Regions from separate parts of the Homo sapiens genome. Here region 1 is linked to region 2. A link means that fine-mapping ties the variant in region 2 to the expression of a gene that starts in the linked region. Tissue or cell type: tibial nerve. Region 2 holds a variant in brackets; the other region holds the start of a gene. All regions are shown on one strand. Distances are from middle to middle.

Evidence for each region. PIP is the estimated chance that this variant, and not a neighbour inherited with it, causes the effect.
Region 1: it holds the start of PHF2, and the variant in region 2 is fine-mapped to the expression of PHF2 in tibial nerve (GTEx, PIP 0.98).

Annotation. Positions count from the first base shown.
Region 1 is chr9:93,573,528-93,578,740 of GRCh38, reverse strand. PHF2 (PHD finger protein 2) reads right to left here and starts at 2,157. Exons shown (of 22, transcript NM_005392.4): 1 at 1,870-2,157. The coding sequence starts at 1,967. RefSeq lists enhancers at 368-517, 2,699-2,978, 2,660-3,254, 3,255-3,850 and silencers at 1,379-1,538, 2,129-2,428, 2,539-2,598.
Region 2 is chr9:93,618,675-93,623,887 of GRCh38, reverse strand. All of the region lies in intron 1 of PHF2 (PHD finger protein 2), which reads right to left. Among named protein-coding and RNA genes, the nearest start is that of MIR548AU, 26 kb to the right of the region's middle. The variant C/T (reference allele first, on the strand shown) is at 3,146.

The DNA.
Region 1 (5,213 bases), 45 kb after region 2:
CTCAGCCCCTGTCGCCTGCCTGCCCCTCATTCCTGGAGTTTTTCCCTTGGCCTCGAAGTCTAGTTCAGAACTAGCCTTCCCTTCCCAGAGGGTCCCCTAAGCAGCGAGACAAAGGTCTTCTCGCGTTCTCTCACTCTCCCTACTCTGGGCCCCGAGTGTGGGCAGCAGCCAGGAGCTGACACAGGTGCCCAGAAGGTTCTGTAGCAGAGTGACTGCGCTCGCCAGGTCAGGGCTCCGGTGGAGATGGGGGAGAAGGCAGAGGCCCCACCACTTTCAGGGCTTTTCAGGGCCAGCAGCTCAGCATCCCTGGATATGAGGAGCCTTAGAGGCTCTCACTCACTTTGGCCCGGCCATGAACTTCTCAACGGCTGCCAGTTGAGGGTGTGCATGTCAGCCCTGTTCTGGGCAGAGCCCGGTGTTCACACTCAGTCTCCCTTGCTCTAAGGGGCTTCCACAGCCCTGGGCATACCCAGGAAGGCAGCCCAGATTTCCGTGGGCATCCCCACCCCACAGAGTCCCAGGCCCTTCTAACAGCAGGGAGGTAGGACTCAGGACTGGGGCTGACAGACATAGCAGGCCCTGTCACATCCCAGCCACCCAGGTCCCCACATGTAAACTGGCAGGACTGGACTTGGGGCCACAGCCCACTCTTAAGCACCACTGACCAGTCTTGAAGACCCAGTCTTAGAACCTGCAGGAGGATCTCCTCTCTGGAAGGAGAATCCCGGACCACCCACCACCACACACCCCTCTCTTTCCCCCGGCTGCTTGCTGCCGGTGGTTTGGGACTGGAGCCCCAGAGGGCATACAGCCCTGGCCAGCCCCGGGTCCAAACACATCCCACAGGCAAAGTCAGATGCAAGAGAACCTGTTGGAGCAGTTTGGGCAACACTGTCACCTCCTCTTCCTCCTCCTCCATTTACTTCTTGGTGGGAAGGGACCTGCCCTAGGCATGGGGCCAGGTCATGGCCATCGGCAAGGGCCAAGAGGGCGGGGGTTTTCAGTGTCTCCAAGCGTTACCTCCTTCCCCCCTCCCCATCTTCCTTAGGGAGCATAAGATCATGTCAAAACCGGCGTTCCTGCCGGGAACGGAGAGGAGAGAAACGGGGAAAACTGAAGGCCAGGGAGGAGGTGGCAAAGCCACAACAAACCCCCCTTACCCAACTCACAGACACTATTCTGTCACCGCACTCCTGCCCGCGGACCTGCAGGCCTGCCGGGTCTAGCTGCTCCGCGGGGGTCCGGGAGGGGTCCTGCCCTCGGGGACAAGGTCCAAGGGAGCTCGCCGGCCACGGCGGAGGGTGGGCGCGCCGGCTGCCACCTCGCCGGAGCCCCCACGGACTCCCCAGCCCTGCCGGAGTCGGAGCCCGCCACTCGCGCCTCTCCCGGGACCCGCGCCGGGCTGCGCGCCCGCTTCTCCCGGCCCGGCCAACCCCGAGCCCGCGCGGGGAAAGTTCCTGCAACTTCGCAGGGGGGAGGCGGCGGGGGCTCCGGGCCTCGGCCTCCCTCCGGATGCCCGGCCTCTGCGGCCGCCGCGACCCAGCTGACAGGCGGCCCGGCCCGGGCCTGGAGCCCCAACTTCCCCGCGCCCCGAGCCCCGAGCCCACCTCCCGGCCCGCGGGCCTCGCTTTGTGCGCGGCGGCCAGGGGCGCCCAGCGCGGGCCCCGTGCTTGGCGCCCCCGCCCTGGGCACAAAAGGGCGCGCGGCCCGGCACGGCCCAGCCCCGACCGGGGCGCCCGGAATGCGGCGGCGGCGGCGGCGGCCCGTCCCCGAGCCGGGCCTGCGGGCGCGCAGCCGGGGGCGCGGGGCTCGGTCGGGCAAGGTGGCCGGGCCGGGCCGGGCCGAGCCGAGCAGCCGCCGCGCGCTCACCTGCCGTGGAACCAGTCCTTGCAGGCGTCGCACTCGATCATGAAGCGGGTAACGTCGTAGGGGAGCCGGCAGACGCAGTACACGGGCACCGTCGCCATGTTGCCGCGCCGCGCCGCCGCTCGGCCCCGCCGCTGCGCTGCCCGGGTCGGTCCGGGCCGGGCCGGGGGCCGGGCCGCGCGGGGGCGGCGGGGGCGGCGGGGCGCAGGCGGCGCCGCGGCCGGGAGGGGACGGGGACGGGGGCGCACGACAGCCCCCGCGCGCGCTCCCGGCCAGGCGCGTCCACACAATGCCGGGCGCGCTGGCTGGAGGGGCCGCGCCGGGAGCCGCCCGCCGGCCCGCGGGGCTCAGGGCGCTAGTGTGCGCGGGGGACGGGCCGCGCGCGGGACACAAAAGGGAATGGACGCGCGGGGGCGGCGGGCGGGGAGCCGCGGCCCCACCGAAGGGACCCCCGGCCGCCGAGCGGCCTCTACGTCAGCGCCCCGGGTGGCGCCGCCTCCGCCCGCCGGCCTGGGCCGCCGCTCCCGCCGCCGGGAAGGCGGGCTGGGGAACCCTGCGGGGGAGAAGGTGGGTTGGGGGACCCTGCCGGGGGAGAAGACGGCCGGGGGGACCCTGCCGGGGGAGAAGGCGGGTGGGGGGATCTCGAAGGTGGAAGATAGGCCGAGAAGGGCCCCCAAGGCTGAAGGTAGACCCAGGGGTCCGCGGGCGCGAAGGTGAGCTGGGGGAGCCTTGAGACTGAAAGTGGGGTGGGACCCCGGGGAGAAGGTGGGCGGGACCCCGAGGATAAGATAAGTTGGGGGAACCCGGGCAAGGCAGAAGGAGAGACGCGGGGTGCGGGAGTGGAGCCCGCAGGAGAGCCTTCCTAGTCTAGAAGGCCGACAAGCAAATACTTGGCCCTAACTTTCTTCTGACCCCCACCACGGTGGGGGTGTTCCTCCTCCTCGGCCGCGCTGCCTCCCTCCGTTCCCCACTGAGTTTCTGGTTGGGACACCACTTCCTCTTTCCCCTCATTTTCGGCTGGGGACTGCCGCCTCCCTCGCAGGATCCCGCGGACTTCCCTGATGCTCAGCCCCAGAGGAAGAGGACAGAAGCCCGGGCCGGGAGTGCGCTGGCACGGGCTGGTCAGCTCTGTTCCCTGGCATTTGAGCCCCCCAGGCCCGTGACCTAAGGGGCCGGGCTGGTCAGCTCTGTCAAGAGAGAGCTCCCTGGCATTTGAGCCCCCCAGGCCCGTGACCTAAGGGGCGAGGAGTATGGGAACCCTGGCCCCCGTGTCCAGGGAACTGAGCCCCCACGGTGGGGAGGAGAAGCGGAGGTGCGCTCTGAGGGGTCACTTGCACGCGTTCTAGAGGAGGACTTCCCTGCCTCGCCAGCGCTGCATCCTTGGGGCATCCGCGCTGGGCAGGGGCCACATCCCTGCCCGCCCTTCCTCCCTCACCCTCTTTCTCTCCCCATCCTCCCTCAGCAAAATCCGCATCGTGCTGGGAAATGTGGGCCACCCCTGCTCGGAATTCCAGAATCTCCGGACAGGAAACCTGGCTCAGTCTCCTAGCAGCATCCATGACAAGGCTCCTTAGCCCCTCAGCCCCTCACCATCACCGCCCACCTGCAGCTGCCAAGGGGCCGTTTGCTCCACCGCAGGCGGCTCAATTAAGGTCCTTCCTCCTACTGAGCCAAAATCTACCCTCAGAGTCAGCCACCCACCCCCAACAAGTGACCCCGTGGATACAGACTCAGGGCAGTGCCCAAAGCACTGGGCACTGGGGAAGGGGGCGGGGGGAGAAGTAGCTGGCCATAGAGGGAGAGGAAAGAGCAGGAGACCCCCAGCTCCCACACCTCTGGACTGGCCAGGATGGCCTGCAATAGGCCTTCCTACCTGAATTCCGGTTGTCACTGGTTCCCTTCCTCCTGGGTGAAAGCCTGGAATTTTTTTTTTTTTTTTTTTTTTACATACTGAAGTTCTGGGAAAGAAGTAACTCTTAAGCCATTGTCTACTATTATGTAGATAGAATGCTCAGCCTGAAGGTTGAGAGCCCAAAAGGCGGGTTTCAGGTGAGTGGTGCCCACTTCCTTGATAGATACACTCTCCCTCACCCTTACAGCAGTACTAAAGTAGTCAGGTGAGCAGTGCCCAAATGAAGCTGGAAACTTCTAGAGGCTGCTGTGATGCAGGGGAGGCTGCCCTGATGTGGGCATCCCCCCATCCCTTAACACTCCTATTAGCCTGTTTACAAACAGTGACAGTAGTTAGCCAACATTTAGCAAATGCTTTTACCAGGACAGTGCCCTGGGCTCAGTTCTTCACGAGGTTTTACCAGTACCTAACCAGATGTTTGTAAGCGCTTAGCAAATTCCTGGGTCATGATGGCAATTACTACATACTCAGGACTCTCCTTTGGTGCCTTTAGGTATTGGTATTAGTGCCATTTCACAGAAGTGAAAACTGAGGCGCTAAGCAATTAAACATCCAGCCAGACAGAGGATGTCAGCTCCCTGGTGAGAGGGCAGAGGGTGGGAGCCAGTGAGGAGCCCTCAGCTGGTCTCCAAGTCTTGGGCCTGTGCTCCCTGCCCCGCAGCCACCGCACAGAATGTGTCTGGAGAAGCTCGGCCTCCCTGCTAGTCGTTCGGGGTGTCCACCCCACCCACCTCCCAGCCCTGCCCTTCAGATGGTCTCCTGTGCCCACCAGATACATTCCTTTTGTTCAAAGCCCTTCCATGGCTGCCTGCCATCTATGGGATAAAACAAGTGTCATCAGAAGCCCACAAGCTCCCTCTGTTTGGCTTCTCCCTATGGCTTCCCCTTTCTTTTTGTTTTTTCTTTTTCTTTTTTTTTTTTTTTTTTTGAAATGGAGTTTCACTCTTGTTGCCCAGGCTGGAGTGCAGTGGCACGATCTCGGCTCACTGCAACCTCCGCCTCCCGGGTTCAAGTGATTCTCCTGCCTCAGCCTCCCGAGTAGCTGGGATTACAGGCATGTGCCACCACAGCTGGCTAATTTTGTATTTTTAGTAGAGAAGGGGTTTCTCCATGTTGGTCAGGCTGGTCTCAAACTCCTGACCTCAGGTGATCCGCCCGCCTCCACCTCACAAAGTGCTGGGATTTCAGGCGTGAGCCACTGTGCCCAGCTGACTTCCCCTTTCTTTTTTCCATCTCCTTCAGGACATGCACCTCCCCACTCCTCCCTCCTTCCCTCCTTCTCTCTCACTCCTCTACTGAGGTATTTATTGAGCATCTACTGTGTCCTGAGCAGTGTTGTAGACACTGGGGACTCAGCAGAGTCTCAGCTCTGTTGGAGTTCACATTGGAATAAAGGGAGACAGTCAATACATACATCAATGCATACAAGATGATT
Region 2 (5,213 bases):
TAGACGAGTGTTCTGTTCCACAGCCACCACAGTCTTGAGTTCTGGGAACAGAGCATGAAGCCCAGAAAAAGATCTTGGCAAATTGTTTTTGAAAATATAAAGTTCACTCTATCTTAGAATACAAGCTAAAGTCAAGTCCACACACTCCAAAGAGTCAAGTGTAAAAGAAAAGCCATCAAAAGCACAACATGAGGGAATATTTTTCTGCTCTCAGGGTGCAAAGTGAGAGCATCTTCATAATGAAACAAAGAAAAATTGGAAAGGAAACTCAGAACATTGATGAATGAAAATTATGCTCCAAAATACCAAAACAAACTTTAAAATGCACAGTGTTAATATTCTTCCTTCATGAAGTTTATAAGGGTGTCTGCCCAATAGAAGCAAAGGCCCAAAGCCAGGAACAGGACCAGGGCATAGCACTATGGCATGTGAAGAAGAGCTCAGCACAGAGGAGGGCAGGACAGGGCTAGAAAACGTCACGTGCACTCACTACAGTGCCACATATACCTCAGGTTCTCATCAGTGACACCAAGTATCAGCCACATGCAAAGACTTTTGTGGGACCAGATGAACTGGGAGCTGAAGACAGTCCCTTCAGCACCATCATTACTCACTTCAAGCATACATGTTATAATATATTGCCCTGGAGCTGGTTGAGCTCTTGCAGCCCAGAAATTAGACCCAGAATCCACATTGCACATCAGACCCTACATCCATGTGAGACCCCAAATCCACATCCACAGCCACAACCACACTCCATGTCCATGCCCACATACACAGTCACACCCATGCCCCATGTCCACACCCTCACCTGGCCCCTGGCTGCTCCAGGCTGTGCCCTCACTGCAGCATCTGGAGCAGATGAAGGCACAGGACAGGCTACACCAACCTGACCTGATTCTGCCACCATCCCAGCAGGGCCCTTGCACACACATGGCCCATCACACACACCTGCCTGTCAGGCCTTTATGGGTTGGTGCTGACCCTCAGGCAGAAGGTCAGAGGTCAGACCACCAAACTCAGAGTAGAACAGACAGACAGACTCGGGGCTCAGTTAGCAGGGCCAGCACTCCCTGGAACATGCCTGTTCTGGGGACAAGACTTGGCGTGAGGGGCTAGAGACACCAGGATCCTCACAGGGCCTTTGGACAGGAGCCCCCTGAAGGATTCACTCTCCAGGCTGGAGGTCAGAAGTCCAAATGGGTCTCACCGGGCTAAAATCAAGGTGTGGGCAAGGGCAGCTCCCTCTGGAAGCTCTAGGGAGAATTTGTTCCCACCTCCTCCAGTTCCTAGAGGCCATCTGCACTCCCTGGCTCCCGGCCCCTTCCATGTTCAAAGCCAGTGATGGCCAGCCGAGCTCTCACAGACGTTGCCCTGACTCAACCCTCCTCCCCTCCTAAGGACCACTGTGATGACGCTGCAGCTGCTGGGTCATCCAGGACAGTCTCCCCATCCACAGCTGGCTGAACAGCCCCAACTCCATCCACAGCTTCCCTTCCTCCCCTCTTGCAATGCTACTTAAAGTTGCAGGATTAGGACATGGGTGACAGCGGGGGCTGTTATTCTGCCGACCGAGCTAAGAAACACACCTCAGGGTGACCTCAGGCTCGGTGTATGGACAGGCTGGCTGGGCCTTGACCAGACCCCAAGCCCAAACTGAAGCCCACATGAGGCCCCAGCAGTGCCTGTGAATGTAAGGAAGTCCTAGTCTCCTCAAACTCCATCCCTCTGGCCACCCAGGCCTCACCCCTCCCTGTGATATAGCAGGGACAAGGTGACAACAGCCATGGTGAGCCAGTGACTCAGCACAGGAAGGACAAGCCATGGCTAGGAGCTGCACCCACAGCTTGGACCACCTTGGTGCATGGAAAGGCCCCCAAATGCCCCAGGTGGTTGGGCACGTCCCCAATGAACAACATCCTTTTAATAGTCCAGGGGTTGGTGCACCACAGGAGCTGAAGGGCTCTCCAGACCTCGGCTCTAAGGGTGCAGAGGGAACTGCCCTGTCCAAAGGCCACATGGGAGTTAGAGCTGCAGTCAGTCAACAAGGATGGAAATCAACATGTCCTTAAAATACACCTCCCCACCAAGAATCAGGCTCCTCAGCTCTGGATATTGGCACGGGGTCCTGGATCCTGGGGGCAGACAGCACAAGCCTACTTTACAGGGGGGAAGGCCGAGGCTCAGGGGTCACAAGAACGTGCACGGCCAGCACAAGGACTCAGAGGCACAAAGGTCAGGTGGGGATCCAGTCCTCACACCTGGCCCCGCCCTCCATAACGTGCCCACCTGTGTGGCTCCAGGCTCTGGGCCAGTGTCCACTTTAGGACGCTCTGCCCTGGCACAGCCAATCCACTTGCACAAGGAGGGGCCCCTTGTGGGCTTCCTCCTTCCAGCACCACCCACCCCTGGGCCATCTGCTGGGAGGATGAACTGGGTGGCACAGGTGAAAGGCCTCACCTTGGCCAGGACAGCTGCCTTGGTCAGTCATTTACTGCTTTGTGCAGGAGACCCCAAGAGACTGAGAGAAAAGAGAGGTGGTCATGGTGGAAGGGTCCTTCTGCCGCCCAAAAGAAGCTCAGAGAACCAAAGGCCTCAGCACCCCCTCACCACCTAGGTGCCTGGGCCAGAGGCAGGGGCTGCATCCAGGGCCCGCCCACCAGGGTTGTGGGGGGTGACCACTGGGCTGCCCCTCCTGCCCCTCCAAGGCTGAAGGAAGTAGACCCTCCACAGGGATCCAGGCCAGATCCCCTGCTAGCACCGACCCTACATCTGCATTGCTGCTCCAACCCCTGCTGCCTGTGCCACCAACCCCGACAGTGGCCACTTGGCAGGTGAAACTAAGTCTCAGGGCATTCAGCCTGGCTCTGCCACTAGCTGTGGCTATATGCCAAGGAGACAGCACCTAACGAGGATCCAGGGCTTCGATTGTGCAAGCTCCAGCACAGTGAGCTCCATTAGGGGCCATCCTGTTCTCACAGAAGAGACTGTTTGCCGACACTGGGCATTTATTTTATTGTACCAGAATTAGGGCTTTCTAAATGCCCCCTAAGAAATTATTCAGAAAATTGGCAAAACGAAAAATAAGAGGAGAATAATAACTACAGAAAAATGGAAAATATTTTCCTCACACTAAAGCCAGGAG[C/T]ATAAGATACTGAGAATCTGAAGGAGACTAGGTAACACCAAAACAGTTACAGCATCCCAAGGCCATGTTAGCAGATGACTTCATTATTTCAGAGACAAAAACAAGCACAAGCTTCTCATTAACAAAAAACCAACCTCAACCCCTCACTAATGCAGAGTGGGCAATTCCCAGATATCCACGTGCTTGTGGCCTGTGTCCACTCTGCCCTCTGCAGGAAGCCCATCGTGGGCCACCTGAGAGGCAAGCAGCCACATCTTGCTGACTTCAAAGGTTGTCGCCCATGGGGACAGTGCTGGCTCACAGGAGCTGAGCTCACAAAGGATCCCCCAGCCAGGCCCACTCGTCCACCTATGTCCTGCAGACAGGCCCTCGTGCCTCACCTGCTGCCCCTGCCCCAGCGTGGGGATGCATCCCAGGACACAGACAGAGGCTCCATGAGGACCCAGATGTGGGGAAGTGGGTGAGGACGGTCCTCACAGAACCAGGGCCCCAGACTCAGACCTTTCAGAAGACAGAAGGTGGGCCTCTCCCTCCTGGGAACAGGAGCTGGAGCCCTCTGCAGGCCGCTGGCCACCTAGCCTTGTACACTCCCAGGCTGGGCCCTGCAGGTCTGTCCCGGGAGCCCACCCACATCTGCAGAAAGAGCAGGTCACAGGCTGCTTGTGGTCAGGTGAGCCAGGACTGCAGAGTCCGAGGGAGAGCAGGGCATTTGGCTGAGCTGAAGCCCAGGGACGCCTTCTAAGGCTGTGCTAAGCAGGGCTTCTGCTTCTCCAAAAACTCAGGGCAGACCAGACCAGGAGAAAACCCAGGAGCTGAGAGAGGCGGTGCCTGGCCACACACAGACCTCAGAGGCCACCAGGGGCACAAATGTCACCCCAGGACCTTAGTATTAAACAGAACATCAACAAAAAGGCAAAGTTGGCCGGCCCCTTTCCCTTTTTAACCCTGGCTAAGAGCAGCACCCCCTGAGTTTCTTCCTGCGACAACAGAAGCTTGTTGGCCGAAGTGCAAACTTCAGGGGCCGCAACAGGCCCACCAGGGCTGGGTAGCAGGCATAGAGCACGGGCCACGGGGTGCCACCAGCAGGTATGGAGCACGGGCTACCGGAAGCCACCAGCAGGCATGGCACACAGGCCACCAGGAACCACCAGCAGGCGTGGAGCACAGGCCACCAGGGGCTACCAGCAGGCGTGGAGCACAGGCCACTGGGGGCCATCTGAGCACCAGCCTGGTGAAGGCCCGCATCCACCACCCCACGAGTCGCCTTCTTGGCCTCCACCCTCCACCCTGAGGACACTTGGAATGCTCAGCCTCGTACAGGCAAGGTCAGCGGAGCAAAGTGCCAGCCCAGGATGCCAGCCCAGGACGCCGAATCAGGCCCTCTGAGCAAGTCCTCCTCGGCCAGTGAGGATCAAGTCGCCTGGTCCCTAAGAGATGGGCTCCAACGAGAGCAGTGTTTCCACCCACTCACAGGCCCAAGGGTCTGTGTCTCAGCTTGTGACCTCCCAGGAGCCAGGAGATGGCTGGGCAGGGGTCTCGTAAAGGCACACTGAGGGAAAGGGTAGGGCAAGGACCAAGGACAGACCCAGGCCTCAGAGCTACAAAGGAGAAGCGGAGAACATCCGCCTGAGCCAGTGAGGCCTGGGGGTGATCCACCTCTGCACAGGCAAGCGAGGTCTGCAGACCCCCAGTGTACCACATGGTGGGCAAGGACAGGCAGCTGCCTGTGAGCAGCTGGAAGAGGATCAGACCCACAGGGAAGTGAACAAGCACTAGAGTGAGGCCTGGGACCTGGCTTAGCACACATACAAACTCACACACCACACATGCAGACGCACATACACACACACACAAACATATGCAAACACAGAGACACACGAACACCACACACAGGCACACACACACACCACACACATCACACATGCAGACACCCTCATACACAGAAATACACAGATACAAACACAAACACATGCAGACACACAAACACAGGCATACACACACACATACACACAGGTGTGCAAGCGCAGAGTGCTGTGTGACCAGGATGCTATTAATATTACAATTTTTA